Regions from separate parts of the Homo sapiens genome. Here regions 2, 3 and 4 are each linked to region 1. The links come from fine-mapping of genetic effects on gene expression. A gene starts in region 1. Each other region holds a variant in brackets. All regions are shown on one strand. Distances are from middle to middle. Region 1 holds the start of GASK1B (golgi associated kinase 1B). Region 2 holds the start of LOC124900801 (a long non-coding RNA gene). Region 3 overlaps LOC105377509 (a long non-coding RNA gene). Region 4 overlaps TMEM144 (transmembrane protein 144).

Region 1 (8,110 bases):
TTTATCTTGTGGCAAATACTGGTTCTAAGTGTTTTCCCTGTATTAACTAACAACAATCTCATATGGTAGGCAGTATTGTCATTTTACAGCTGAGGAAACTGAGGCATAAAGAGACATGGCAACATTTCCAAGTCGTATGATTGGTAAGTTCAAACCTAGTCAGTCCAACTCCACGGCCCAGGCTCTTAGCCACTACTGCATTCTCCCAATACAGTAGTCTAAGAGCGTCTAAGGGAAGCTCAAAGGACATATCAGAGAACTCTGCCTCAGGATATACACAGGAGTTCATCTTCTCCTCTCTGGGGCCTTTATGACATGAAAATGAATGGGATTTCAGCATAACAAGGGGGATCCTGTGCTCTACTCTGCTCAGAACAGTCAGTGTGGGCCTGTTGTCCCAATGCCCACCAGCATCTCCTTTCACGCCACACGGTTCCAGTTTGGATAATAAGTTACATATTCACCTAAGTCCAGTGGCTAAGAAGTTATGTTCTGAAGTTTGCTGGGTCTATAGTCAAAACCCAGCTTAGCCACCTACTAGCTGTGGGAGTTGAGGCCAATTACTTTGTCTCAATAAGCCTCAATTTTCTCATCTACTAAATGGAAATAATAATAGTCCCCACTTCATAGCATTGTTATGAAAATTCTAGGAGCCAACACATATGAATCAATTTGTATAATCCTTAGCAAATTGTGGGCACCCAATAAAAATTCATTTTTATCAACATTAGATTAAATGTTTGAGAAGGTTTCTTACATTGGCATAACTGTGGTGGACTGCTTTATAAACTTGAGACATCAAAGCATACCTGTGAATCTGGAGCACTTAGACAAGAACCACCATCAGTAGGGAATGTCCAATTTTTCTAAGTAAATCACTGGTACTTCCAGGGGTATCCATTTTAAAATGAAATTATAATGCTAAAGCCATTGGAAATGCAGTTGGGTCTCAGCCACTCCCAGGGATTTTAATCCATTCCATTCTAGGCTCCCTGGGAACCTCACTGAAATGCTAAATTTCATGGTAACATGGAGAAAGTTAAGTATCCTTTCAGCTTATAATCTCTTTGGGGTACATTTTAGCCTCTTGGGCCAATCTGGATTCAAAGTTGTAACTTCTGGCATCATTCTGCATTCAAACATAAGCCACTGACTCACTGTACTTTGTATTCGAGCCCTGGAATAGCTTTAATATTCAGAGAATATCCTTTATATGGCATGGGCATGACCGCAGACCAGTCCTTTTGCTGGCAACTGCAGTAACTGGCTACATGTGTTAGAACCTGCCAAAATGTTTGTCACCCAAGACGGGAGAATCTTGAAAGACAGACTCAATAGATCATAGTCAGGGGCTTGATAAAACCACACAGCTAGTTAGTATACATACTGAACAAATCACCAATTTTTGCTCATTCTTTTTATTTGTTAAATAAAGAGGTTAAATCCATTGAAAAAAAAAGGGGGGGTTAAACCTAACATGGTCTGGCTCTGCGCGGCTTAAGAAGATTCCATCTGCTCAAGAACGATAACCCGCTTCCCCCTTACTTTTAAAAACTTCTACTTCCTCCCATAGTAACCTATTTAATAGTATGCCTGACTGTCAGCAAGTTCTTTGCCTCCAGCCTAGCTTCCTCTCCTCATCATGCAAATTGCCGTTGGCTTTAATTAGATTTAATAAGCCACTGGGAAGTGAAGCGAGGGAAATGGAGAGCAAAGATTATACAGTATGGGCTTACTCTTGCATGTCCAATACAGCATTTCCCTGGAACTCTCATATCCTCCCAGGCTGGGAAAATAAAGAATGCCAAGCGCATGGAAAGACACGCTGCTGCTGCTGCTGTCCAAATGTGAACCGTGGGTGGAGAAAAATCATTTAGAAAAAGAGAGTGAGGGAAAAAAGAAAATGAACCAGAATCCCCAACAGCTGCAAATAACGAAGCATGTGAATCTGTTACCTTGGATGAACTCTGCTTTCCTGCTCACAGACGGCAGGGTCCTGTTGAGCCCCAGGATCCTGTCTAGGTGGAAGGCAAACACCTCACTCATGTCCAAGGGCTGCTTGAGAAGCCCACAGGGGCTAGGGCCACAGCGGAGCACAGCGCCAGGTGCGCCCCCCTCCAGCACCAGCAAACGGGCTCCGCTCCTAGAGGACACAGGCCGGAGCCCTGCCACTGCGCTGTCCGCCAAGAGTCGCATTCTTCGGATGTCATCTTTGCTCAGCCAGGAGGGGGCGCTCTCGCTGTAGATCCTAATGTTGCTCTCCCTGGAGCTGGGCTGCAGGAAGTCTGGGCCCCCGGCTCGCACTCCCGGACCCCGCACCAACCTCCAGGGTCGCTCTCCAATCTTAACCAGGTTTGCTCCCTGAGCGTACCCAGGTGCTACAGCATCAGCTTCCCTTGCCGCTTCCTGCGGCTGAAGGGATGGTCCGACCAAAGCCTCCTGCCCTGGGGCAGCCGATGCCACTGCATGCTTTTTCCTGCGCTTGGGCTTCACGGTGCCACGGATATTGGCCGGCTTGCTGCGCTTGGAGCGTAGGGTAATGTACACCACATTGGGCTGCAGAGTGGACCCATTGCCCTGGGACTCTGGAGGGGCCAGGGTACCATCCAGGGGTATCTCAGGGAAGGATGGCTCGGCGGTGTCGCGGCTGCGATGTGGCCCCTTCTCAGCCGCCTGTCCATGCTGGAGAGAGGCCCTCCCCACCTGGCTCACCAGGAAGCCCAAGTAGATGGCACACGCAGTGCCCAGCAGAAGGTTTCTCCGGGTCCTTGGACGCCGGCTGCTCCAGAGCTTACGCACCCGCGGGACGCACAGGGAGCAGATGAACCAGTTTATGAGCTGCCCCGGCTTGTCTGGACAGGTCATTTCTCTGCCGCATCCACATGTTGAACGGAGTTTAAAGTCTGCAGTTGGCTCCTGCTAATGTGATGCATGGTTTCCTGACTTCAGCTGCCGCGTCCGCTTCGGGATATAAGTGGTCTCCAGTGGGCAGAGGTGGAAGGAAAGGGTTGGTGATGAAGCTGGGAATGTTTCTGACACAACAAACCTTTTAAATTATCAGTCTCCCCAAGGAGAAATGCGGCTTGTTTCTGGGAATGAATGGATACAGAGTTAACTGAGTCACAATTTCAAACCATTTAAGTTCCTCTACAAGAGTCAAGAAAAAAAGTAATCATTTCCTTTCATAAATATCACCACTAAATGTTTTTAAAAATAAAATTTAAAAGCATGCAAACGAGATAGATGTATAGATTTGATAGTCACTTGAAAGTAGTGAAAACAAGCCACAAAAATCCAAGAGTGTTTTATAACTTGTACCTAGAGTCATTTAAGTTGACTCTGAAGCAAAAGCGTTAAAATGTGACAAACCTGGGCTTTTCCTTTTTGAAATTCAGAAAGAACTTAAGACAAGTAATAGATAATTTTTTAATACTCTATACCTATACCATTTTTATTTTTTAAAGTCCTGAATTAACTAAGTACAAGCAGCAAGTATTAACAATAAAATTTAGAAACATATTCTCTTAGTCTAAAGGTACAAATTGTACTTCATATTAATAATATGTTCCATTAGCTTACATTGTTAGTATAATACAAAGCCATAAATGTCCATATATCTTGGAAGCAGTTGCATTTATTCTGTTTCTCTCTCTCTCTCTCTTTCTCTCTCTCTCACACACATACACACACACAACACAACACAACTCTGACTGCTTTTTATTTCTTTTCTTTCCACCGAAGTCAGCTGAAAGAAAATAAAAGCATCTCTAGTTCTGTTTTTTCACTATTAAAAAGAAAAAGAAGAAACTCGTAAGCAACCTTACTTACACAGCTGGCCCCATGCTTGGCTCCAGGAAGAATGTAATCCTTGACTCTAATGCAAAGAACTTTTAAAGGCTGAGGCATGTAAGTAGAACATATTTCATGGTCAAGAGTGTTCCACATTTCAAACATTTCAGTTCAGCTTTAAAAGCTCCCTTGAAAACTACTGATTGCAAAGCAAAACTTGGAAACTGACTGCTGCATGGTTTTAAGAGATACAAAGCTTTTAAAAACAATAGTTAACAAAATAAACTTTAATTTTAAATTCGGAAAAAAGAAATGCCGTAGAGAATCAGTTTTCATTCAAATAAATTTCCACTTATTTTTAACCCCTGGGAGCCCTCTAGTGTCCTGTTCGCAAACAGACTCAGAAATGTCAGTCTCATGAAGTTCAAAAGATCGAGAATGTTTGCTATCTTGGTGGAGCAGCCGCAGCCAAGCAAGTAACTTGTAAAATGAGGAATGCCATCACCCCTCGAGTGTCCATCCCACATAACTTGGGGTTAGAGCACAAGCGTTCCCAGGAACTACTCACCTTACCATCTTGGCCGTTTCATTTGTCTTCCACCAGTTCTGGAAAGAGAAGGCCTAGAAGTTCAGAAAAAAAGGTAAGAAAGAGTTAATATAAATGAGGAGAAAAAATAGAACAGTGAGATAAGAGTACACACAGATAAGGAAAGACATTTATAGTGTGCAATTGCACGGTGCAACAGTTCACAAAAGGAAGTCGTGGATTCTCTCTGATTGGAGGTTTTTTGAAAAAACAGGTTAGGGATTGGCCTGGGTGGTTTGCGTGTCCTAGCACAAAGGCAGGGGCTGATGACCTTGGGGTGTCAATTAGACTATGGCAAATAGAATCAAAAGGCAAGAAGACAGAAAGGGGACAGGGATTTTTCCTCCCCACAGAGAAAGAAAGTTGTGATACTGAAGAGTGGGTAAAAGATTAGCATATGGTGTATAATCCTAAAAATACTATATTTTACAATGCAAAAAGAGCAAGGAGTTGGAATATATAGGGAAGGAGAGAATAAACGTCCAAGTGGTAAATTGACAAAAATTATAATCGGGCTGTTATTTCAGCACTCTAAACTCAGTCCTTTTTTCCTCTTTAAAAGTCCTGCCACATGGAGGAATGAGAAGGAGCAATCCCAATATTGACAGTAGCCTGGAAGTACCTGGATATTTTGGCTAAACTTTGTGAGAATTCAGGCATCAAAACAATTTTATCTGCACTCAAAAACTCTTAGGCACACACTTCCATACACACAGAATTATTTTCTTGATAGAAAATGTGAACTTCTTGCAAGGAAACCATACCAAAGCTGCATTTTATAACCATCTTATTATTTCCACAGTCAAAGGAATAACTGACCTGGCTCTATAACAATTAAAAGTAAGCCTTTGGCAGAGGCCAGTTATAATAAGCAGACATCTCCTCTAGCTGTTTTTAGAGCTATTTTTTTCATGGAGAAATGCCTACGAGATAGGGAGAGTTGTGTGAGTTAGTAAATTTCGTTGACTACCTTCCCACCCCCACTCCAAAAATGTCTCCTAGAAAAAGAACAATACACTGTCCCCTGCTATAGCCACAATAGGGATTCGTGGAGGCTACACTATCTACTCTGAACTATGATATTCAGAGAATGGGCTGAAGAGGGAGGCAGACTGGCTTTAAATTCTCCTCATTTACCTCTTACGTGTGGTCCCCTGTGGCAAGTAATCTTACCTCTCTAAGCCTCAGTTTCCCCCATGTGTAAGAAAAGAAAAATAATAGCACTTACCCTATCGGTTTCTTCTGATGACTGAATGAGATAGCAGCCTTGGAATGATCATTTGAAATATTCAGCAATGTGTTTGTTTTTATCCCCCATGATGCCTCATTAAACTGCTCAGAGGCCTCTCTCCTCAGCCCAGGCCTTGACAGATAGTCACCACTGCACCACAGCAAAGCAATCATGGTAGAATTGAGGACAAGCACACTGAATTATTTGTAGCCAACATATTGATATAGCCAATACAGTGGATAAATGGGGCTTGTCAGATATAATCAGAGCACAATTTTAGTGATTCCCCCCACTGCCCATTGAAACCTGTTCTGTGGCCTGATATCTCTTTTCAACTTTCTTAAATGGAAACTCAGGCAGTCCCCATGACTTTTCCAGTCATACTTAAATTTTTGTAAAAGTTCTCCAGTTGTTAGCCATAGACATACAGACACATAATACACATAAACTAATTAATATGTTTGATTCTATATCACAGTCAATTTCTTTAAAAATTTCTTTTAAATTCCCAGAATTTCTCCAGAAGATAGCAGTCCCTCAAAAAGCATAGCCAAAATCTACTGAAAAGGGACAGAGGAGACCCATCTTACATTCTTTTTTGTTCCTGCCTAGAGCTCTTATTCCTTAACCACTCACCCAGCCGCTCACCCCACTTTGAGCCTGGCTCTGGCTGTTCCAAGGTAGTGGAGAGAGAGAAGCAATAATAGCAGAAATGGCCTTGCTACTCCATTGATACTGCTGCAAATTGACTTATAAGCTCTCCAGGTTTGGCAGGTGTGTAAAGCTGACTCTGAGATAGTTAATTCAAAGACACCACTATCAAAGCATCTCTCTAGCTGGCTGTTGATGGCCCCTTAGTCCCTTGGAACTTGGTAGCCCCCTGTTCTGTTGAGATCACCTCATCTCTCCAGGCTGTTCTCTTAGGCAGCATTTAAGCTGACCTGCAGGCTGGTTTTCTAACTTGGGCCTCTGTGTACTGCCCCACAAGTGATCCAGTGGACATGGTCACCATCATTTGCTCCAGCAACCTCAGACTTCCCAATGCAGCAACCCACCTCCCTTAGCACTGCGGATCCATATCTCATTTTCGAATGTGGAAGCAATTGCCATCAATTGCTCATGGTCTCTGTTGAAACTGAATGGAAAGGTGTTTTTTGCCATCAGGTAGCATGGGAAACAGAGAAGTTTAATTTAGTTTTAGAAAAATAAGGCTAAATTCCTTGAACAAGCGTTAGCTTGAAAATTTGTTGCCACAATATAACATTCGTGTATAACTTACAATATAATCTGTGAGTGAACATATAGAACTCAAAGTATTCATTATTATTAATATTATTAGATCAGAGAGACAAATAATTCTCATGCCTAAAGTACTTTCTCTTCTTAAAAAACAATGAGAGAAATAAAGTGAAAAAGTAGACAGTAAGATAATGGTAGGGACCATCGGAATTACCTGAGGACTTTTTATATCTTTATGGAGGGGCAAGGATGGTGATGGAGAAAAAACATGAGCAAAGCAGGATTGTGGGAATGTTCTGTTTCTTCATTTAGATGGGATTTACCTAAGTATGTTTATTTTGGGATAACACATTGACTATACATTTGTGATTTCTGTACTTTTCCATATTTATATATATCTTATCCTTCAATCAAATTGGAAAAGGTGGTACATAAATAGCTATTTATTTTATATTCTTTATACCTTGTATATATGTTATAAATCTACATAGGAGAGTAGAACAAATAATTTGTTTACAATAAAAAACGCATATTACTTCAGTCATTTAAAAATTAAGTTTAAATATTAAAGAACAGTAAAATCCCTGAAAATTTTAAAAATATATGAGTGTCTAGACCCCATCCATCTTCCCAGAGATTCTAAATGATCTAAAGTAGGGCCCAGGAATCCACAGTTTTAAAAGCTTCTAATGTGCAGAGTTATAATTCACTGTACTATGAGTTAAATACTTAGTTCTAGGAGCAAGTTAACACCTTTTTACAATTAAATGATGTCTTAGGTTTCACTGGCAATGAAGTAATCCGTAAATCCTTCAAGGCTTCCAATAGTAAGATCCTAGTTTGGTAAAGGCTATTTGCCTTCAGTCTGGGACAACTCCTGGACCAGATTAGATAGTGAATCGGGCCTCATTCTTCCACCCACAGCACTCTCATTTCCCCCATTCCTGTCAGGTGTGTCACTTGCTGTGACTGTGTGGCAGCTTGCCCATCTCCTGAGAGCCCTTGGGAAAGTGAAGGACAATATATAAGGACTCCAATCACTTAAAAGCTAAGTATTAAGTTTTTCCTTGCCACTGCTGACCCAGGTTTGTTGCATAGATTGCAGACCTGGAGATGGATACCTTGTTCTTGGTTCAGTGCTGCACAGACTCCTCCACTGGGGGACCCTATCCCTTGCTCCTCATAGTCCTGATTTCTAGGACCCATAACCCTATTATAATTAAAATCCCAGCATTAGCATAGGTTCCTGGCTACAACCTTTGTCC
Region 2 (8,110 bases), 160 kb before region 1:
TGGATTGTCTTTTCTCTCACGTGCCATCAGAACATACAAAAGCTAACACTAAGAATGGAACAATGCAAATGACAAACACTAAATTCATAATTGGAAGAATCAAGGAGGGAGGAGGACTCTAACACTTCGTGCTGGGTAACACTTGTAATTTGGTAACGGAGGTTACAAATAGGTAAATTTACACACGTATTAGCTTGGTGTTCAGAAGCTATCCTTACTGAGACAATAGAACTAATCGTCTTGAATTTAAAAAATGTAGAATTGTGGCATATGCTTGCTAGTTCTTATGGTTCACTGTAAGTCTTCTTTTTAAAAAGAAGCTGACATTGAAATCTGTTCCTCTAAGTAAAGACAGGAAGAAAAAAATATATGGCTTTACCAAGAAATACCTTTCTTGCCTGAGACTTTCCATTCGAGGTCACAGAAAAATTTGAAAGTTCAGACAGCTGGATTCTCTCCTCCAAACTAAAGTTATTGCCAGCAAAAGCAGGGAAGTAGGAGCAATCACAGGAGGTAATATTAAAACCAGAGAGAAGCCATCCTCCTCAGGATTCTTCGAAAAGCTCCTCTTTTAAACTACACTTAGAGGGATGGTCACCTCAGTATAAAGATCCCACATCAGCCCCAGTCCTTATGTTAAATGGCCCAAGGCAGGGGCAAGATGCAGATTCTCAGGGTAAGGAAGATAGGCAGAGCAATGTGTCAGGCGGGTATTAATTAAGAAAAACATGGGGCCTAGTTCTCATACAAAGACCAGCTTGAGGAGATTTCTGGCCTTTGGCACTGGCCCATGGAATTGTCTAGAGGACAGATTGAAAGTCCACTTAAGTTTTAATGGAATTGTCCTATCAACACTGGAATAAAACAGGCTGCAAGTACAACCACTAAAGCATATCCCAAATTCCTAATCGGATAGCAAGGGAAACAGATGGGGGATACCCAACACACACATCTCACACATGACCACTGAGGACAAAAATAAGGAAAACTATAGAGTAAAATACAACTAGGGTGACTAATTCAGGTCTGCTGACAAAAGAACTTACAGTGTCAGGGAAAATGGAGCAAATAATCCTTGCTATTCTTTTTGAGCCAGATAGGCCACCGTGTTTTGTTTCCCATTCTTTCCATCCAATGGAAGTTTTGTGGTACATATTTGTATTTTCTATCAATGTGTTTTGCATATGACAAAGATAAACTCTCTACTTGTTTGATGATGCTTGATGACCATGAGGAACTACACCCAGACCTGATGAGAAGGAATTAATATTGACCAGAGGCCATAGACTTGGAGTGAATGTAGTAACTGGGAAAAAGGAATTTAAGAATAAGGTTCTGTTTGTACTTTTGCTAGCCTAAGGGATGGATTATAGTTTTTTTTTTTAATTTGCCAGGACCCATGCCCCCTATATTATTCAAATGTAGCTCTATTCTCAACTTCAATGGTAAAGTAGCACCATACACCTGGCCAAATGGTGCAGAGCAGCATTGGATCAGGAATGGGCAAGTGACCAAACTGATTCAATGAGAAGAAATTACAGGTCAAACATGGAAGGGACCTGGTTCAGGATACAAGGCAAAGGCCCATTTTATGATGAGGAGAGTCTGTAGCTGAATATGAACCCAACAGAGGGGAAGCAGAGCTCAACGATGAAGAGAAAGAAACTGAGTCTTACTAATTGCATCAGACCCTGAATTGAGAGACTGAAAGCTTACATTTATCTAACTCTGGATTTTTCAGTAACATAAGCTAATTAATTATCTTTTTAGTTAGACACGCTTGAGATTGAATTTGCATTCACTTTGAACAGGAAAATAAAATCCCAACTAACTTTCTGAATTTATTTCTCCCTCCCCCTTGCACAATTTTATACCATAGCCACACCAAGCATAACCAATATTTTCACCTTTTAGAGACTTGGTTCTTATTAGGCTTCTGACTGGATGTTTATTTCTCTTCCCTCCCTGGAAAACTTCTATTTACCCACTAAAGCTCAGCTATCTGTTTTCTTCCTTTGTAAAGACCTCTCCAAACTTCTAAACAGATTCATATGTTTCCAAAGTCATCATCATTTCTAAGACTACAACAAAAACATGTGATCTGCTGTGTATGTCTCTCACATATGATACAGAGGTTTCGTCAATCAGCGATGGGGTTTTGTTTTTCACACTGTATTTGTTATTTTGGCTTTAAGCAGAAAATTACTATACAGGATTTAGAATAATTTGTAACAAGGCATTGGCAATAGCAGTTATACTGTTATTTCCAAAATGTGTGGTCCTTTTGAAAATCTTTAAGTATACTACTTCTTTTCTAAGCAAGAAAGTTATAATTCTTGAATAACTATGCTTATTTGTAATATTTTCACACAGAGTAGAAACTGGAGTGTTACGGCCTAAATATATTCAAATTTTGTGTGCTTTGTCTCTGTTGAGTTCCACCAGAATTTCTTTTTTTCTTTTCATTTACTCCTATATCAGTACTTCAGTTGGCTAAAAATAACACTTTGCTGAAGGCTCATAAACAAGAGTATTTTAAGGCGGACAACAAACTATTTTTAAGGTGCATGTTTTAAATGCCTGACTTTGGATGATGTGCCACCTACTTTAATGCTCAAAAGAAAAAGTGACACAACTGTAGAAATAATTATCAAACTATTTTAAGTATTATACTGGTGGCCAAAAGAGAGAACATTTATTTTTAAGTTAGGATGTTACAAAAAATCATATCCTCTTTTTCCTTGAGTTCAAGTTTCATATGGTGTTTTATAAGCTGTTTTTCTTATGCTTATGGCACAATGCTAACTGTTTTTATTAGGAAATGGCCTCCTGGCTAAGTGCCTACTCATTGTATTACAGCATTTTCCCTCAGCTGTAGCAGAACAACAAACCAACAAGTTCACACTTCCTTATTAATTCTGGAAAACCCTTACCATGCATAACACAGCATGAACCTTTTTATATCTTGACAATTGCTGGAAGTGTTTTATTTTATAACAGAATTTTAAGAATATCCTAATTAAATAGCAAACAGTGGTTACTATGGAAACCATGTTCATAAGTTTTATAATTGTCTTTAAAAATGTTAATTGTCTTCCAAAGCTGTGACTTAGGCTATTAATAACTTGTAAACCTGTTGTTTTTCTCTTCTCAGTGGTTTCTTGCTTTTTGAATACAG[C/A]ATTATAGTTTGATGAAAGATGATATAAGTGATCATCTTTAAATTATTGATGTTTCCCACAATTTATGGGAACAATTCAAATCTCTTAAGTCGGTTCAATTATGTTTAGCCTAAGGCCATCTCCTTACATATTTTAAGTTCACCCTAAATGTTTCTCTGTACATCCTGAACTATAAACTAAATGGAGTTGTAACCTACTCTTAGGCCAATCACCAAGTTTTGGCCAATCAGATGTGGCCAACTGTTCAAACCCTGTTCAAATAAGGCAAACACCAAGCTGTAACCAACCTAGCTGTTTCTGCACCTCACTTATGTTTTCTGTACATCACTTTGCTTTTTCTGTCCCTACATCCGTGGCTGTGCTGAAGTCATGGAGCCTACTCTGGCTCAGGAGGCTGCTGATTCATGATTCACGAATAGTTCTTTGCTCTATTAAACTCTCTTAAATTTAATTCAACTAAAGTTTTTCTTTTAACAAGTCTTAAAAGTGAAGCTGGGAAGCTTGCACCTATTAGCATCCAAATGGAAACACTTACTTGTGCTTGGGATAGAAACAATGTCAAAATAAGGAAAAGTGTGGATTAATAGAAAATAGATCTTTAGTGTATTCCTACTTTAGTTGCCATCCATTTGCTCCTCCATTTTCTATATTTGTATAGGTTAGAACCTCACACTTTGTATGTTAAATATTTGCAATGCCATGTAAAAGAAAGAACCTGGACATATACTAGTCTGCATTTGATTTCTGACTTCCTGTCTATGTGACTTTATTCAGTTAATTTAATTTTTCTCAACTTCAATTCCATTGAATACAAAATGGGAAATTGATACTTTTTGTATAAATTTGTTATGAATATATTAGAGAAAATGAATTGCACATAAACAAAAGCCTAGTGACAAATAAATGGCACTCATAACAGATCCGCAACTAAACATCAACAACAACAGTAATTATCAATTGTGAGTACTTTCTTTGAGCCGCATCTTTACAAATGCTATCTATTTCAGCTGTCAGGTAAAGATTAGCAAATGCTATTGCCTTGTTTTTGCTGCTGTTTTGTTTTGCCCTTATTGCCCCAAGTTTACACATAATATATTCTCTTAAGTTAAATTTTTAGATTGGGAGAAAAGGTCACTGATATTCTGGAAAGAAAACAAAACAAAACTTAAAAGGACTACACTCATTCCAACCTCCACATCCGCCTGCCAAGAACAACAAACCTCCCTTCCAGCTTCTCCCTCCTGAGCAGCTGACATAGTTTTACCATCAGGCTCTGTAGCCTCCTCATTCCCCAAAAGTTACACATTACTTCTTTGTCTTCACTGTGCCTCCTCTCTGTCCCTTTCAGAGTTCAGGCAGCTACCCCTGCCTGATATGCCTCTCAGTCGATATCAGTTGTTGTAGACATATCTTTATTTGTTTCGGTAAGAAAAGCTTCAGATTGACCACTAACCAAGGATCATGGAGAGATTCACTGGCCCTCTCAGGGCCTGCTGCTGTTAAGTTTTGGGTGAGGTCTGTCCGGTCTGTTTGCCATTTCCATCCACCAACCCCATCTATTCACTGCCGACGTGCATGGGCATGTTGCCATGTCAGAGGTACCACAAGAAATATTTATCTTCTGAGGCTAAAAAAAAGCATAGAATTATTTCCTTTTGAAATTGATGAGCTCCATTCTTGGGTCATCAGTTTTGAACTTGACACAGCAGAGAAACAGAGAACAGTGGCTCCATTTGTCGGCTGCAGCCTTGCTCCTTGACAAACCTGAGGGCAAGTTCCTCAGGCTTGTTGAGAAGGTTTGTGCTCCAATCCCTTCAACCTTGCAAACTAAATGACATATTACACACATTTTAAAAATGAAGAAAAGGAAATAAAGAGTGATAAAGTAACTACCCATGATCATGTTACCGGAAAGGGGTCCAGATCCAGGCCCCAAAAGAGGGTTCTTGGATATCACGCAAGAAAGAATTTGGGGTGAGTCCACAGAGTAAAGTGAAAGTCAGTTTATTAAGAAAGTAAAGGAATAAAAGAATGGCTACTCCATAGGCAGAGCAGCGGCATGGGCTGCTCAACTAAGGATACTTACAGTTATTTCTTGATTATATACCAAACAAGGGCTGGGCTGTTTATGAGTTTTCCTGGACAGGGGTGGGCAATTCCCCGAACTGATGGTTCCCCCCTTTTTAGACCATAGAGGATAACAACCTGATGTTACTATGGCAACAGTAAACTGTCATGGTGCTGGTGGGTGTGTCCTTTAGCATGCTAATGTGTTATAATTAGCATATAATGAGCAGTGAGGACGACCAGAGATCTCTTTCGAGGTCATCTTGGTTTTGATGGGTTGTAGCCAGCTTCTTTACTGCAACCTGTTTTATCAGCAAGGTCTTTTTGACCTGTATCTTGTGCCGACCTCCTGTCTCATCCTGTGACTAAGAATTCCTTAACCTCCTGGGAATGCAACCCAGTAGGTCTCAGCCTTATTTTACCAGCCCCTATTCAAGATGGAGTTGCTCTGGTTCAAACACTTCTGACAATCACACAGCTAATGCGCTGTTCCACTACACCAGTCTGACTCTATGTAAGCACTTAATACATAGTTGTTAAATAACTAGGTGTGCTAGATTTGGAGCAGAGAGCTGAATATGTAAAAATGAATACAGCCTAAGCCCTCAGAGCATAGGGCACATAAGTCTGTGTGAGGGAATAAATAGGGTAAGTTCATAACCAAGCAAGATAGATAGATAATAGATAGAGAGAGAGATAGACAGATTTAATGAATCTATCACTATAAGTGCTTTGAGAGAAGTCTCTACAGTGCACAAGGAGAGTATAAATGAGGGAATGGCATTTCTTTGGAGGTTAAGGTTTAGTTTTCTAAAGGGAAATGATGGCCAATGTCTGCTTTTTGTTTACTTTTTTTGTTTTTTGGGCTTTTTTTTTTTTTTGAGATGGGGTCTCATTTTGTCTCCCAGGCTGGAATGCAATGGTGTGATCATGGGTCACTGCATCCTTGACCTCCCTGACTCAAGCAATCGCCCGTCTGTCTCAGCCTCCCGCGGTGCTGGGACTACAGTCATGAGCCATCATGTCTGGCCTGCCAAGGTCTGTTTTGAGAAGAGTGAATATGGGGATCTTACACTGTGCAATATTTGAAATATCTAGAGGAAACATTATATAATGCAGTAGAAAATGCTTGAAAAAAACGTGAAGTATCTTGACAGCCCACTAAAAACACTGTATGATTTGTTTTGCCCTATATTGCAGTACTTCGGTGGCTTTAGCTGAATACGGTTCATCACAAGCCAACCTGTTAACATGCAGATGTGAACAAATGATCAAATAGAACTGAAGTTTATGGCCATTGCTTAACTCTTAGAGAATAAAAGGCAATAGCATTTCCCGATTATGAAGAATTCTACCTTTGTAAAAAATTAAACAAATGAAATTGTATCACTTATTTTCTAAAGGAATAAATTTAGAAAATATCACCTTTGGTCATAGTTGTCACCAGAACTGAATTTAAAATATTCATTCACTATCATTGCAGCCTGTACAGTCACTACAGTCTATGGTTTAAATATGGCCATTTTAAATTTGGGGGGTTTTGTTTTGATAATCACAAATAACTTTGATAAATGGTCAAATTTCACTTTTTTTATGTTTACCACATTTATTGGGTATTTTCCAATGTACCAATGCTGAGTCTTTTGGAACTGTCATTTGTAGCTGGTGCTTGTTTGACATGTGGAACCCAAAGACAGCAGAACTCTCTGTGGTCCCCATCCTAGTGCCCCCTCCCCACCCCTGCATCATTCCTGTGCCCCTCTAGGGGATGTGGCCAAGACTTTTGGAAGCCAGTGCCTTCCAGCTATAACAGTGTTGATATTCTGATATATTTACCAAGGCTCTAGTTTATACACAATCAGTTCTTCTCAAGTTGCCTCCTGCACTTATCAGTGGGACTGAAACACAACATAAAGACTACTGTCAATATTAAAGTTTTTGGCAAAGAGTGTGCACCTGAATCATCTTCTTTGTGCAGGGAGGTAGGATTAGGCACTGGGTTTGTCACAGAGCAAGCTGTTGTAAAGAAGTGAAGTGGATCCTGGAGATGGTTCTGTTGCAGTGGCAGTACAGTATCTCACCAGGTAGTGGCTGGAGTTGGCTCCAAGTCTCTGGCAGGGGAACACCTTGACACACGTCTGGGGTCGCTGGCACTCCCTTCCTCTCTGACTCCAGCCTTAAGGTGAAGAATTCCATGTAGCTTCTTGTCCTTTCCCCTCAGCTGTCTTTGCTTCACAAGGTTTTAGCCCAAATAAAGAGTACAAATCCCAAAGCCACATAGAAATGAACTTTCTGCTAACTGGAAGCTTTAAGTGAGTAAAGGTACTTTATAATGAAAAATGCATACATTTAGTTTAGGAAAACTGAGATGTTAACATGTACCTGGTGAAATAAGAAGAAATATCATCCTGATAATTCTCAAATTTTCTTCCCCTACAAGCACTGATCTCTAGCAAAGTGGGAAGAATATGTAAACTTCACTGTCATCATATAACATATTTCTGTTTATTAGGTGATTTTGTAGATAGTTTCAGTTTCATATTTAATATTATTTTATTTTCTGTTTATTTTTTAAATTAATTCTTGGCTCAATTTGGATCATGTGCTTTTAGAAAATTATTTTAATTATGATAGGAGACTTAAGTTGGTTATTTAGAGAGGACTCTGTTTGTTTACAGTTTTATGATCCTTCTCAAATGCTTTAAGAAACTGAAAGCCTGTAAAGCTTTCATGCATACTGTGAACTGCACACTTCAGTTCACAGAAGAGATTTAATTAGAATATGTTGATGATGAGCAGTCCATCTTTTTCATGTAGTATAATTTATTAGACATAAAGGTGGCATTATTTATACTGTTCAACCA
Region 3 (8,110 bases), 210 kb before region 1:
AGTCGGTGAAGCATGTGCAAGTTTGAATAGTGCATCTCATTAATGATGAGACGATACTGTGGCCAAAAGTAGGAATTCTCTTGAGATACCAACTGAATTTTCTTTGTCATCAGCCACCCACATAACCTCTGGTGGTTTATTACCCAGCAGAAAACAAGTCTGCAAAATGTCAGTGTCACCAAATTGTAACAATGATCTATAATTTTGATAAATAAGGTTGATATAATGGGCTTATTGTTAAAAATCAACTAGAAGTTAATATATAAATATAATCCAGGTAAAATTATCTGATAAATAAATACCATCATTAAATAGTATTGGGAACATGATCCATTATGATATCATCACGTTTCCGTCCCGGTTGACATTTAATTGGTGTTTGCAGATAACAGTAGCAAAAGCTTATTAAAAACTGAAAGTATTTCCACACATTGCTACAGTTGTTCCTTTTTCTTGATTTCTAGAGAATGCTCCAAAGTTTAGGAGAAGATGGAAGAATTGGGGAGTAGGAGACAGCAGCAGAGACATCCTGGAAAGGTTGGAAAGGACTGGCTAGAGAATTGCAATCATCATGGATGACTGAGGTGGACATGCCTAAAGTTATGGAGAAAAATACTTAGAAGAACTTTTAGAGAAGTAAATAACAGCACATGGTAATTCAGATACAGCAGAAAAGTTAATGTCTGAGAAGTTTCTCTACAGCAAGGGTACTTGACAGCAATGGTGCTAATATACATCCCATTTTTTTTTTTTTTTTTTTTTTTTGCCTATAAAGCTCCTGCCTACAGAAAGAGAATAATTCAGAAAGCAATGTAGTCTACAATTTACCAAGAAGAATTGGCAGAGCAAAGACAGAAGCCTCACCAAAATGATGACATTATTCACATTAACACATAATGGCTCTGTGTGTTATTATCAGACAACCTATCTCTACTGAAAGTGATGCTCATTGATAAAAACTAAATTAGTAAGCCAGCATACTAGTTTGTGTTTCAAGCAAGCTTTATAAAACTTTTATTTGGTCAAAGCTAGTATAAATGTTCTTATCCAAGTCAAAGAATTTTGGAATTACAAATAAAAATCCCTACCTTAAGTAAAAATGTTTAATTGAATTAGTTTTATTTAAATATTTATTGCTAGCAATTTTATAGGAATGATTCTCAGGCATGTACAATTGCATTAAATCACCATACCAAAGTTAGTTTTCTGTCATATTTAAACAAGTCTGCCTTTGAAAATACATATATTTCAAGAACATTCCTTGAAGTTCCACGTATTTATGGTAGGCTTTTCAAACTATAACATTAAAAAGTCTATATGTATGTATTGGTGTGCTTAATTTAATCACACCTGAACAACTCCAGCACGCAAATAAAAAACAAAACTGTTTTAAAGGTGTATTGATTAATGTTAGTTTCAGCTATGAATACTAGAAAACTTAGATACTATAGCTTTGATAAGTTAGAAGTTTAAGCCCCATTAAAAAAGTAGGCAAAGGATATGAACAGACACTTTTCAAAAGAAGACATACATGCGGCCAACAAGCAAATAAAAACAACCTCAATGACCACTAGAGAAATGCAAATCAAAACCATAATGAGATATCACCTCACACCAATCAGAATGGCTATTATTAAAAAGTCAAAAAATAACACACGCTGGCAAGGTTGTGGAGAAAAAGGAATGCTTATACACTGTTGGTGGGAGTGTAAATTAGTTCAACCAATGTGGAAAGCAGTATGGCAATTCCTCAAAGAACTAAAAGCAGAGCTACCATTCGACCCAGCCATCCCATTACTGGATATATACCCAGAGTAACAGAAATCATCCTATCATAAAGACACATGTACGCGAATGTTCATTGCAGCACTATTCATGATAGCAAAGACATGGAGTCAACCTAAATGCCCATCAATGACAGATTGGGTAAAGAAAATGTGATACATATACACCATGGATTATTATGCAGCTATAAAAAAGAACAAGATCATGTCTTTTGTGGGAAAATGGATGGAGCTGGATGCCATTATCCTTAGCAAACTAACACAGGAACTGAAATCAAAATACTGCATGTTCTCAGTTATGAGTGGGAGCTAAATGATCAGAACTCATTAATACAAAAAACAGAACAACAGACAGTGGGGTCTACATGAGGGTGAAGGGTAGGATGGGGAAAAAGAGCAGAAAAGATAAATATTGGGTACCAGGCTTAATACCGGAGTGATAAAATAATCTGTACAACCAATGCCTGCGAAGCAAGTTCACCTATGTAACACAGCTTCAGATGTACCCCCAAACCTAAAATAAAAGTTTTAAATGAATAAATAAAAAATAAAAATAAACAAGTTAGAAGTTTAGTTTCCCTCTGGATTTTCACAGTTTCAGGGCAAGCAAAACAGCCTGCAATGCCCTTTGTAGTCCTACAAAGCTGACAAAGGAGTTCTGAAAAGTCTTCAGACACTGGGACTTGTTACACTTTTCTCTTCTGTTATTTTAGGATACAGCCCTCACAATCATACTCCAAGATGATAATCCAGCCATCACATCTATGTTCCAAACCACAGGATGGAAAAGACAAAGACCAAAGGGCAAATATGTGCACCAGCTGTTTCTGAGGGGATACTTCTAGAAACTGCACAGATCACTTCCATTTATACCCTATTGGCTAGAACCCAATCACCAGCCCTCACCTAGTAGTAAGGGAGAAGGGAAAATACAGTTTTTGTTTTGAAGGCTGCATCCCTTGATAAAATTTCTATTTCTAAGGAGGAGGCAAGAGATACTGAAGAACAACTAGGTTAGAATGACTTTTCCCATATTTCCAAGTAAGGGTTTTGCCCGTTTGATAAGACCATGATTTCCTCGCTCTAAAAATGCAGTCTCATGCAGAAATGAGAGCATCAGATTGCTGAGCTGGATAAAGAAGTTGCACAAGAAAATTTAATAAAAAAAAAAAAGATAAAATTAGCCTGACATCCTGTTTTAAACCAAAGCAGCTTAACTGGCATTTTTTGCCTGAGGGGAAGTTGGACTACAGTCAATACTGAATTACCTTTGATCTATGGAAAACTTGGCCTTCACTCAAGGCACAGATTTGACAGCTTTTAACCTAAGTTTTGAAACCACACTCCAATATTCTATATGCAAGAGTCTTCCCCATTGGCAAATACCTTCCTTAGAGAACAGCATTAAGGTGAGCATGACAAGAGGATTTTCAAGTGCAGAGATTTGGAGGGCTGAAGCCTTGGATGTCATTCATTGATGCATTACTAAGGTTAAGGCCTAATGAGCAGACAACTGTTGAGCAATTAAATCAGCTATTTTTAGATTGTGCTACATATATCAAAGGCTGAAGTCTATCTAAGCTTTGGGATAATTATCAAAACCCATTCAACAGCTTCTCTTTCTTCCTGATAGCTACCAGGCCTTTATCGCTGATTTACACTGTCATATGCAGTTTTAAAACACCAGGGAAAATTTCCTTCCTTTTATGCAGCATATAATTTCCCACTATTCAACCCTAAGTCTGTATTCAGTTTATGGTGTTATTTCAATAAAGCTCACCAATGACTTCTATATGGTGTTCATATTCAGCAACAAGTAGCTTTAATACTTGATGACATCTCGGTAGAGACGGGGAGAAACTGTATATTTATAGTACCTTTCCTCTCGCCTTCACTTTCCGCTATGGTAACAAAGGCTGGGGTGGTTATTTTTCTCATTATTTTCCCACTGTGACTGTGAGCAAAGTATCAGACTCTGCAACTTGAATTCAAAGACATTAAACTACTTCCTAAGTATACCCAAAGAATGTCTAATAAAAACCAAAAGCTCCACGAATCTGGTGAGGACTGTCTAACAACACACAATCTGATGAAACTCAAAAGGGCAAATATTCAGAAAACAGAGTGGATTCTAAGTACAAACAAGCAAATGAAGTATTTTCTTGAATGATTGGAAACCATATCTATGACTTATCTCCAAGACTGGTTGGCAAAGTAAAAGAATTTTACCTACTCAAAAGCAAAATACAAATCAAAAGGTAAAAAAATCCATAAAATAGGAAAAATAACATAGACATGGTACCCAACATTACTGAAATCAAGTATACAGTTTCACCAGCACTAACAAAACAATTCGCATCAAGAAGGGTGGGATTTGTTAGAAACATGATAAAACTTCCTACTTGTTGATATTTTACTTGGTCCCAGATGAAACATTTATTTTCCTTTAAAGTCATGTATGCTATCTATAATCTCAGGATGCTATTGAAGTATTTATTAATAATTCAATACACTCCAGCATAAACCCTGATATACCTTACTCTTTCCTGTTTGTTCCCCTTCTTCCCACTGTAGTATCATGTATCTTTTTACAGTATTCCCAAATATATATCATTTCTCCCTTTACCTACAAGACTTAAAAGGTATATAATGGTGACTACAATATTGCATTTCTTTTAATTGTTGCTTAACTAGATTTTACATATGAAATTATGTGCTTTTTCTCATGAATCAATACTTTTTGCCTGTTGATGAAATCAACAGCAGTGTTAAATTATTAAAATATATTGAGGCAAACTTGAAGTTGCATAATTTAACACTATTTCCATAAGAAGCCAATATGGGCTACTGCATCATGCTTTTCAGGGACCTGAGTTTTACAGTAGTGACTGCCTGAAAACATTACGCCAGGTTAATAATGTTCAGGGCTTTTTCCTGAGGCAATTTAAAATGAGAACATTTATTTTTATTCTCCCCAATGGAGCCAGAATTACATTAGGCATACAGCTGTAACTTT[T/G]TATTCTCTTTTATCCTGACAGGTGGGGTGACAGTGGCTACTTTCCTCCCAAGTAAATCACATTTGACTATAAACTAATGAGGTGATGAAGGCTTTCTCATCAACACCTTTCTGTTACGTAGCATCAACTTGGCGTGTCCTGATGAGCAAAAGTTAGATGGGGGAGAAAAATACACCTTGAGGAACAACCAAACAAAATATAATTTCCAATCTACACAGCCTCCTTGAAATAACAAAAGTAGTCAAATTTTCTTTCCAAAATTAAAAAAGAAGCAAAAAAGTATATAACTTCTCTAAGAAAGAAAGGCATTTCAAATACCTTATTCAACTTTTACTTTCATTACTTATTTATTTCATTTTTAAATAGATGATGATAAAGAAGTATGCCTACTTTGAAGGACTGCTGTGAGAATCAAGTAAGATCATACATTAAAGTTCTTTATGAAAGTTAAAGTACTATGTACACATTAAATTAATATTATTTCATTAAGAATATGATAGCAAGACCTGGCTCAGTGGCTCATGCCTGTAATCCCAGCACTTCAGGAGGCTGAGGTGGGCGGATAACAAGGTCAAGAGATGGAGACCATCCTGGCCAACATGGTGAAACCCTGTCTCTACTAAAAATACAAAAATTAGCTGGGCATGGTAGTGCGTGCCTGTAATCCCAGCTACTCGGGAAGCTGAGGCAGGAGAATAGCTTGAACCTAAGAGGTGGAGGCTGCAGTGAGCCAAGATCACGCCACTGAACTCCAGCCTGGTGACAGAGCGAGACTCCATCTCAAAAAAGAAAAAAGAAAAAGAATATGACAGCAGAAGCTTCTTCTTTTTGCCCACGCAATGAACACAGTAAGTAGTCAATGTATTTTTAAATAATTTGGTGGCAAAAGGGCCTAATTTCCATGCTTTGCTGAGTTTTCCTCTTCCTTGCTTCTGGAGGAGCACAACACCCTTTTAGTATTCATCATGAATGGCTAGAAATAATCCCACTTGTCTATCCCATTACACATAGTTTATATGGTTTCTTTTGTTTGTATTTAGGTTCCCAGGCCATGTAAAAGCTTCTCAAAATCAAGAAACATTATATATCATTTGTATATACAACTGTATATCATTGGACTGCATGGCATGCACAAAATCAATTCTCATTCTGTCAATAAAAGCGGCTACACAACATATTTCTTTAACCATATATCTTTATTTCAGAATCCAAACAGTGTAGCAAAAATATAACTAAGCTATAAAGGATCAGCCCCTTCTTCAGCCTTGATGTGCCATGTTCTTTCTACTTGTATACTCTTGATTCGTAGCACAATAGAATATATGTTGTTTTTAGGGTAGTAATGTCCTTCCCCTTACAAAAAGACAAACTCTTTTAGTATTACAAGTGGATCTTAATAATGGAAGGATGATTTTAAAACCACCTGATATTATAGTGCCATTCATATAACTAAAGCTCTCACTCCAGTAATATCCCATAACTTTAGGTTGTAGAGAATCAGGCAGATTAATTCTATTTCTTCCAAACTCTACTCTTACTTTCCATGTAACTTTAATGGCCCATTTATAATATGAACTTTTCAGAGAACTAATGAGACCCTGGTGATGTTTACTTTATTTAATTCTGATTATCACATTCAATAGCACTTATAAGTCATTTCACATTTATTAGTGACTAATATATACTATGCATAGATATTTAATGTAATATGTCATAAATGTCTAACATATATTATTAGTAGCTGGATTCCCCAACTGAATTCTGTATAATGAAGTAACAAGGTGTTCCGTGGCTTATTAGTAGTTCTTTACACATAAAATATACTCAGCTAAAGTGTGTTGGTAAAATCCATGATGCTGATAATATGTTTCTTTTTGTTTGGTTGATTTTTTCATGTATCAGTTATTTAACTATGTTACTGGTAAGAAATTTATAATACCAATTTCTAAGAATAAGCTTCGTTTTTCAGGCCAAACAGGTTGCAGGTATCCCTGGAGCTGAGGAATAGCTTTGGTTTTTGGTAAAATTTGCGGGTCCACAGCTGCCTGGTCAACCTTGCCCTGCTCTGTCATCTCATATTTCTTTCTTTTTTTTTTTTTTTTTTTTTTTTGAGATGTAGTCTTGCTCTGTTGCCCAGGCTGGAGTGCGGTGGCGCGATCTCAGCTCACCACAACATTCGCCTCCTGGGTTCAAGCAATTCTTGTGCCTCAGCCTCCCGAGTAGCTGGGATTAGAGGCGCCACCATGCCTGGCTAATTTTTGTATTTTTAGTAGAGACAGGTTTCACTATGTTGGCCAGGCTGGTCTTGAACTTCTGACCTCATGATCTGCCCACCTCAGCCTCCCAAAGTGCTGGGATTACAGTCGTGAGCCACAACACCCAGCCTTCTCATATTTCTTTCTTTGTGCCAAAGACGTCACCATCTGTTGTCTGGGCTTCCACAGCTGTTTCTTCCTGAAGTAAGCCTCAGTAAGATGTTTTGAGATTTCCACATTGCTGATATCAATTTTTGTGGTGGTGGTGATGACAATTTCTTCAGTGCTCTACACAGAGGAACTTGATTGAGGATCCAAGTTTCAGTCAATAACAAGCAGCAAAACACTGCTCAGCTGCTTCAGGAAAACCACCTGTTTGCTTCGATGGCACCCAGTGAAGATGAGCAGAATGTTCCCAGGAGAGATGATGGCTCACAGTTTTCTCATATGCTGACTGGAGTGTTTTTTACCATGGCTCAATAGCCCTAAAGGCACATCATCTACTGATGTGCCTAGGCATTTTGCAAAGTTTAACCACATGGGTACCACTATTCTGGTCACTACCAACTGGTTTTGTAACCATAGCAAGGACCTCCTTCTCTTTCTTTTTAATCCTGGATTTATCGGCTGAGTACTTCCTTTTGCCCATGGCCTTTCTGGAATACATAGCAGATCAGGAATACCTGCGAATTCCCCTGAAAAAGGCAAGATCTCAGTTGCGGTGGGACTTTGCCTTCTTGGGCATTTTAGCCTTGAGGTCACTTTTTTCAACCTTCCCACTGCCATCAGCCTTCTTGGCTTCAGGCTTGTTTATAAATAAGCTATTTTCCAGATGTTCCAATAAGACTCTTGAATATCTGGGTGAAAAGGAGATTAAAGGCTGGTAGTCACAGGACAGAAGAGCAAAATATAAAGGAACATGAACTAAAATTAATGGCATGCTTCTTTTCCCTCTACTTTCACAGACTTTCATTAATGTAAATAAGAAAGTGTTTTTAGCTTCTTTTAAATAAAGATATTGGTCTATAAAAATAATTTTCCTTAGTATCCAGCT
Region 4 (8,091 bases), 76 kb after region 1:
CTGGGCAAAAGAGCGAGACTCCATCTCAAAAAAGAAAAGAAAATGGGAATGCATTCAGGTGAGTAAAGTATTTAATATGTTTGTGTTATTATCTGAAAACTGCCTGTGGTGCCTAGGTCCAGGGCCAACAACTCATGAATGGATTTGACAGATAAAATGTTCAGAATGTGATAATACCTAATTAGGAAAGAAAATACTAGAGCTATGATAATTATAATGTAACATCATGTCTCTCTCCACCCCATCTCCAATGGAAAAATGCTGTCGTTGACTTAAATTTCCCTGAAGTGATTTTAAATAACCCAGTGAAATATGAGAGAGGGAAATTTGTTTAAAATATGATAAACAAGATGAAAGATTTTTTTTTTATCCTAAAGGTTAAAGTATCCCCTGAGGTAAATCATCTTTGGGAATAGATGTTTATATTGGTTCCTATGTCTCCCAAAGACCTCCATGTCAAACCAGCAATTTTGTAGGAAAACAGCATGGTAACAGGAGGCTATTGCCATTTCCTTTTCAAATGTAAATGATGGGAATTTAAAATTGCATTCATCAAATAGTTCTAGTAAGAGTGTGTGTGTGTGTGTGTGTGTGTGTGTGTGTGTGTGTGTGTGTGTGTGTATGTATGTTTTCTTTAAAAATCACTTTGCCGAGCATGGTGGCATGCATCTATATTCCCAGCTACTCAGGAGGCTGAGGCAGCAGCATCACTTGAGCCCAGGAGTTTGATGTCAGCCTGGGCAATCACAACGACAACAAAAGGTACAGTCTCAAGAGTCCAACTGGGTTCAAATCCTGGCTCTGTCACATACTAGCTGTGTGACCTTGGCCAAGTTTCTTAACCTCTCTGTGTGTATAGTCCTTATCTGAAAATGGGGATAACCAACCAAGAGAGCTGAGAGAATATGAGTAAAGTGCTAAAAACACTACCAAGAACACAATAAATGCTCAGTTAATTTTGGGGGTGAGGGTCATATAACCTAGCCCAAACTGTCGATAGCAAAATAAAACAAGTTAGGAGCAGTGGCTCACACCTGTAATCCCAGCACTTGCGGGAGGATTGCTTGAGCCCAGGAGTTTGAGACCAGCCTAGGCAACATAGCAAAACCGCTATCTCTACAAAAACAATTTAAAAATTAGCCAGGTGTGGTGAGGAACACTTGTAGTCACAGCCACTCAGAAGGCTAAGGAGGGAGGATTCCTTGGGTTCAGGAGGTCAAGGCTGCAGCAAGCCATGATCATACCACTACACTCCAATCTGGACAGCTGAGTGAAACCCTGTCTCCTCAAAAAAGAAAAAGAAAAAAAAAGAAAGAATAAGAAAACTCACAAAATCAGAGAACTTCTCCCCTTCTAGCCAGGCATGGTGGCATCTACCTGTAGTCCAACTATGCAGGAGGATCACTTGAGCCTAGGAGTTCAAGTCTAGCCTGGGCAACATAGTAAGACCCTGTCTCCCTAACAATTTAAAGATTTTAAAATGTTTAATCTTTTTTTAAAAAATTGCTTTGGAACTTTTCCCAGTTACCTTTACTTGTAGAAAAAGTCTTCAGTTGAGGAATATATGCAAATACTCTTTTATAAGAATTTTTATTAAAGACAATGTTGATCCAAAGACCCCTCCCCAATCAAGTCATCATAGACCTGTCTTAATATGCAGTTGTAGTAGCAAATAATTCCTGGTTCTAAGGAGATTGATGTTGCTAATCTCTAACAACCATAAAGTGAATGTACTTCTACCTGATCTTTAAAATGATTATTCAATTTTAGATTTAAAACATCATTTCAATCATTGTAAATGAAATATTTTGATTTAAAATCCATTATTTGATAATACAAGTAACATTCTCAGATTTAAAAAATAATAAACTTGTTTCAAAAATATGTGGACTATGATCAGAATTTTTATTTTTTTTAAATACACAAGAACAACTTGAAACATTTATAAACCTCTAAGTTACTTTCGTGAACATTTCTCATTTATTGTAGTCAGAGTTCCTTTCTACAAAAAGTAACTCTATGCCCAAAATATGTTGTAAATCTCTCTGCATATATTTCATCTACCTCACAAAAAAAGATTTATTTATATTAAAGAATTGGTTATTATCTCATGTAAGATGCTGAAGCCTTAGAAAATTACAAATTAGTCATCATAGTTTATTAGTAATTATAGGTATGAAGAAGTACAAACCAAGTATAGATTTATATTAAAGCATTTGAAAATTATTTTGGTCATGACTACAATAATAATACTGAATTGAAAATCCTCTTAACTACATATAAGAACCCTATTCAAAGAGAATCCCTAACCAAAAAGCCTAGTATTAATTGAAAAACAGTGAGGAATGTTTTGTTTTGTTTTTGGTAAAGACATCTTTAAAAAGACACATCAGACTGAATAGAAAAGTAACTTTTAAGATTAATATACTATGACCCAATAGGGTTTAATTCAGGAATGCAAGGATCGTTCATAATACATAAATTAATTAATATCATTTACTCTACCATATCAAATATGAAAAGGACGTGATAATACTATACTAACCTCTTAATAAGCTAGAAATAAAAGGAAGCTTTAGTGGTACAGTATGTCTATCAAAACAAAATAGCAATTATATACCTGAGTTTCATGAAACATAAGAGTTCTCCATATATTGGAAGTCAAGGATTTCTCCATACTATTATACGATATTTCCTATAGATCTAGCTAGTTTGGAAACACCAGAATAAGAAATGAAATGAATAAATATAGGAAAAGAAATAAGAAAATTATAATTTGCAGATTACATTTTTAAAAAATGTACACATTGTGATTTCAATTTATTGGTGACAAAAATTAAAAATTAAAATAAAAATTTAAAAGAATCAGCTGAAAAATTTAACATCCAATAAGATCATTTAGTAAGGCTTGAGATATAAAATAAATATGAAATCAGTTGCCTTCCAATGTATCACCAACAACCAGTTAAAACGAGGAAAATAAATGCTATTAATAATAACCACAAAAATTACATAAAATCTAATTAAAGAATTAACAAGTAATGTGCCAGGTTTTTAAAATACTGTATTTTACTTTGCTACAAACATGTACTAGAGGACATAGAAGATCAGAACAAATATAGGAGACTTGTCACATTTCTGATGGAACATCTCGCTGTTATAATTAGGTAGTTCTCTCTAATTACGTTCAGTATAATTCCTGTAAAATCCCAGTGAAGCTCTTTCTAGAATTTTTAGAGTAGGTCCTAAAGTTTGGCTAATTATTTATGTAAAAATAGGCAAAAAAAAAAAAAAGCATGACAGCACATATACCATATTTCTGAAATGTGCAATTTAGATTAGCTAGGCCAGTTTTCTTATAAAATAAGGATTTCTAAACTTAAGAAAATGACTGTTTGCTCTTTTCTGTTTTAAAAAAATGACTAAGATAAGATTACAAGTATTAAAAGAAGAGAGAGGGCCAAGCTGAAAGCAAAGAAT[T/TA]AAAAAAAAAAAAAAAAAAAAAACCTGGGGCCAGGCATGGTGGCTTATGCCTGTAGTCCCAGCACTTTGGCAAGCCAAGGTGGCCAGATCACTTGAGCTCAGGAGTTCAAGACCAGCCAGGGTGACATGGCAAAACCCTGTCTCTACAAAAATACAAAAATTAACCTGCTGTGGTGGTGCATGCCTCTAGTCCCAGCTGTTTGGGAGGCTGAGATGGGAAGATGGCTTGAACCTGGAAAGTGGAGATTGCAGTGAGCCAAGATTGCACTCTGGCCTGGGTGACAGAGCTAGACTCTGTCTCAAAATAACTAACCACATAAATAAATAAACAAAAAATCTTATATGTCATCTACAAGCAAAATTTAACAGATGTCCAATGGTACTTATTCAATGCAGACACCTAATTGCCTCTTGACAGCTGATTTAAAGAAAAATTTTAAATACTTACATGCCAATCAGTTTAGAAAAGCATCATCAACTGAACACTAAAGCCTAAATATCATAAGAATAATTTTTAAAGTATTTTTGTAGAAACAGGACAAAAACCCCTAAACTCTAAAGAAGAAAACAAAAGCAAACCTGTTATCTGCAGGACTCATAGGTACTGTCAGTTATATATCTTAAAGCAGTCCTTGAAGACGCATATTTAAAAGTCTACAACCTACAGCTGCGAGGAATAAAGCTGAGAGCCAAGCACCTTTTGTGTGAAGGACTTTAATGATTCCATTTAGTTTTAATGCCATCAGTGCATCAGTTGGATGTTTTCATACTTCTGATACTCTTTTTTGTTTGTTTGTTTTTTGAGATGGAGTCTCGCTCTGTTGCCCACGGTGGAGTGGAGTGATGCGATCTCGGCTCACTGCAAACTCCACCTCCTGGGTTCAAGCGATTCTCCTGCCTCAGCCTCCCGAGTAGCTGGGATTACAGAAGCCCGCCACCACGCCCAGCTAATTTTTGTATTTTTAGTAGAGACGGGGTTTCACAGTGTTGGCCAGGCTTGTCTCGAACTCCTGATCTTGTGATCTGCCCGCCTCGGCCTCCCAAAGTGCTGGGATTACAGGCGTGAGCCACCGTGCCCGGCCCTGATATTCTTTTATATCTGATATCTGTTACTCATTGGGAAATTCATTTTAGATTATTAAATCTTTAAGCTAGATATAAATTATATTTTTACCAACACACTTTAGTCAGTATGTCTACAGTAATGCCAACACAGGCAGTTACTACCACAACAATGTATAGGTCAGTAAGCTACTCCCTGGTGAAGAATGAGATGATCTATTATCTTAGTAGAAATCCAAGTTAAAAAACTTTCTGCTTTGGGAAGAATGTTAGTGTGCTCTTTCCAAGAGTTAACATCCACCTTTGATGAAGGAAAACCATTGCTGTTGCCCAACTATAATTAGTCTTTTTCTCTAGGAGACTGGACAGTTTTAGCAAAATCTTAACATTGAAGGGGAAAAAAATTTTTCATTCCCTGAGAACATTATTCTTCTGTCTACATAGGTAATAAAATAGCGCTTAGCAATGTATTCACGTAATTAGATTGTAGAGTGCTTGTAACTGAAGACCCATTTTTTAATTTAAGTAATTGCATCAATTTCAAATTCACAAAATATACGTGGAAATCACCTTAGTGTATTTGTTGTTTGAACAAATGTTTATGGAATACCTATTCTGCATTAGTACCAGTATCTAGGTGAGAATTGCAGTCTTAAAAATTAAGAAAAAAAAAGGTGCTGGGAAATCCAAAGCCTACTGCCAGGTGTGTGTGTGTGTGTGTGTGTGTGTGTGTGTGTGTGTGTGTGTGTTTAAATAAGCTGTTCTGCACTTGGCAAGGTTTTCGGGTGCTTCTATTTGTAGAATTTGGGATTAAAGTGGCTTCTGTTAGTGCTAAGGATCACACTGAATCAGACAATTCAACTGGCCCCAACCTAACTTGCAAAGACCTATCTCTGGTCATCAAACAGAGGCAAATTTATCTACTCTGATTCTTTAAGTTGAAGAAAGGGAACATATATATATAATTTAGTTAGTAACATAATTATTTGATTTTGTTAATTAATACATAACATATATATATATATATATATATATATATATATATAGTTACATATTAGTTAGCATTAATCTTACGAACTAATAATACAAAAGACCTTTCCTTGGCAGTTTTCACATTCCCTCCATCCTGGACTTTGTTTCTGTTCTGTTCAGATTTATTACACAAATTTACCTCTGATCTCTGCATTCTTCCAGTAAACTAGAAACACAAGACCTTTAAGGAAGTGTGAGGGAAGTAGGCAAAATGAAACCAGACAAAAGTCCACTCTTTGAAGTGAGAATTTCACTGTGGAGCCAGGAGAGCCACGTGTTCCTACTGTCAACCCGTCTATCCTGCCCCAACCCTGTTTCCTGTGGGAGCCCAGTTAGAACTTCCCTTTCTGGGTTTCCCTCAAAGCTGACCTGGCTGCAAGGCAGCAAAGACAGAACCACCCTCTACCCTCTGACCCCTTGCATCTATGCTGGGGGAAATGAGTCTCCCTAAGCCTACACTTTGCATGGCCTGGCTGTAGGAACCCAAGTTTGGTGCATGTTCTTCACTGAGTCCTTGAGTGAGCATTAGGGGAGATACTCATGAATCAGATTAGCCCTGAGGATTAGCCTCTAACAGCCCAGGGTCCTGCTTTTATGAACCCACTCCCCCCAACAAGTCAGTCAACTCTTGCACCAAAAACACAGCATTCTATTCCCACTACCTTTCCTGAAGTTTTGCCCAAATTTGGGTAGTGTGAGGCTATTAACCTGTTGGACCTCAGTGGCCAGAATTTTCACCAGAGAGGGAGGACACCAGCCCTATTCCCTACAGATTTGAAGCTGGCAGGATACCAACTGCTGCCTAGAGTTGCTTCCTCTCCATTCCTTTTTTCTTTTTCCAGAACCCTTATGTGTCTTCTACAATGACTTACCCATGAACCATTGTTATTTTTCCTTTTAAGAAGGATCTAATAGTATTATTAAATAGTGTTATTATCTGATTGTAATCTTAGATGTATCTAAAATTAGAGAGGTGCTAGTCTTGTTTTACTTTGTAATGTTCAAACCTTCCCTTAGAATACTGGAGTCTTCCGCCTTGGATTCAGACTCTCCTGATGACCCACCCTTGGGACCCTTAGACCAGGCAGCCAGAGATTGCCATGCCCTCATTGGCAGAGCCAATGCCCTTAATCAGCAGGAAGTAGATACAGAAGACTGACTTCCTCCCACATCAAGCCTTAAGGATAAGGGATAGAAATCTTTAAGTGGGGGGGATGAGACAGGAATAATACAGGGTGGTCACAGATTAGGAAAATCCCAGGCAGCAGTTTCACATGACTAGCAAAAGGAAACTTGAAATAGCTGCAGAGGCCATGGGCTGATAAGACCCTGAAAAACAGCATGTGGATCAAGCTGGCTAAGACCAATTGAACCCAACATGGTGCTGGATTTGCCCTAGGTTTCACCTAGGACCTCATTATACACTCATTAACATACAAATCACACACCCACCAGCACCATGACAGTTCTGGGACCACCCATATTTGGTGTAAAAATGAGTGACACCACAGTTCTGAGAAATTGTTACCTTTTTCCAGGAATCTTCATGAATATTCCACCCCTCGGCTAAAGAAATGATGAAAATAGGAACCCCAACCCCCTTGTATGATTCTCTCTTGAGTATGTCCGCACTCCACTTTCTTGAGTGTGTACTTTTCACTTTGCAACAAGTCTCTGTACTTTCACTAAAAAAATAAATAAATTAGACTCTTTAAACATAAAGAAGGATATAGACAAAATGGCAGTCATTCAGGGGGAGCAGCCAGGACAATAAGGAAGCTTGAAACCATTCCATATGAAAAATGGTCAAAGAGCTAAAATACTGACCAGGAAAAGAGATGCCTCCAGGGATATATGAGAGTTATTTTTCAATGATTGAGGATTTATCTTGTGGGAGAGATATTAAAATCGATCTATCTGTACTCCTAGTGATGGAACTTATAGGAAATGAAATATTTCTACTTAACACAGGAAGATATTTCGTTGTTAATTCAAAGATGGGCTGGGCAACACAGAGAAGTGGTTCTCAGTAGTTCCCATCTTTAAGACCAGGCACCCCATACATAACTGAGCAAGTCCAACGAAGTCATTCTTCACACCCTCTCTGCATTTCTTCCTCACCCTTCAGATCCATCTCCATCTCTCCATCTACCCATCATCATCTTTTCCCTGGGAGACTACAGTCACCTCCTAATTGGTCTCCTTGCATCCATTCTGGCCCCTCCAATCTGTCTGCCATCCTGCAGAAAAGTGTGAGCTTTACACAATGCAAGTCTGAAATTTTAACACAGCCAGCTGCCTGTCTTTTTAATGTCTTCCTCTTTGCTTGGAAAAACAGGACCCAAATTTGAGAGGCAGAGGTGGGCAGATCACTTGAGGTCAGGAGTTCAAGACCAGCCTGGCCAACATGGTAAAACTCTGCCTCTACTAAAAATACAAAAATTCACTGGGCTTGGTGATGCATGCCTGTAATCCCAGCTACTTGGGAGGCTGAGACAGGAGAATCACCTGAACCCA

Evidence for each region.
Region 2: its variant is fine-mapped to the expression of GASK1B in whole blood (TOPMed, PIP above 0.99). The same link has a PIP of 0.9 or more in blood mononuclear cells.
Region 3: its variant is fine-mapped to the expression of GASK1B in whole blood (INTERVAL, PIP above 0.99).
Region 4: its variant is fine-mapped to the expression of GASK1B in whole blood (INTERVAL, PIP 0.92).

What each region holds. Positions count from the first base shown.
Region 1 is chr4:158,168,511-158,176,620 of GRCh38, forward strand. It overlaps GASK1B (golgi associated kinase 1B), which reads right to left and starts at 4,515. Exons shown (of 5, transcript NM_001128424.2): 1 at 4,358-4,515; 2 at 1,956-3,089. The coding sequence starts at 2,865. GASK1B-AS1 (GASK1B antisense RNA 1) reads left to right here and starts at 2,242. Exons shown (of 5, transcript NR_147410.1): 1 at 2,242-2,970. It overlaps LOC101928007 (a long non-coding RNA gene), which reads right to left. Exons shown (of 4, transcript XR_007058350.1): 3 at 5,604-5,756; 4 at 5,178-5,298. RefSeq lists enhancers at 1,998-2,518, 2,692-3,891.
Region 2 is chr4:158,004,324-158,012,433 of GRCh38, forward strand. The region is part of intron 1 of LOC105377509 (a long non-coding RNA gene); the gene reads right to left. LOC124900801 (a long non-coding RNA gene) reads right to left here and starts at 5,432. Exons shown (of 2, transcript XR_007058348.1): 1 at 5,266-5,432; 2 at 4,575-4,806. The variant C/A (reference allele first, on the strand shown) is at 3,179.
Region 3 is chr4:157,961,705-157,969,814 of GRCh38, forward strand. The region is part of intron 2 of LOC105377509 (a long non-coding RNA gene); the gene reads right to left. It also overlaps the pseudogene RPL6P11. Among named protein-coding and RNA genes, the nearest start is that of GASK1B-AS1, 200 kb to the right of the region's middle. The variant T/G (reference allele first, on the strand shown) is at 4,801.
Region 4 is chr4:158,244,643-158,252,733 of GRCh38, forward strand. All of the region lies in intron 12 of TMEM144 (transmembrane protein 144), which reads left to right. Among named protein-coding and RNA genes, the nearest start is that of TMEM144, 38 kb to the left of the region's middle. RefSeq lists an enhancer at 223-724. The variant T/TA (reference allele first, on the strand shown) is at 3,481.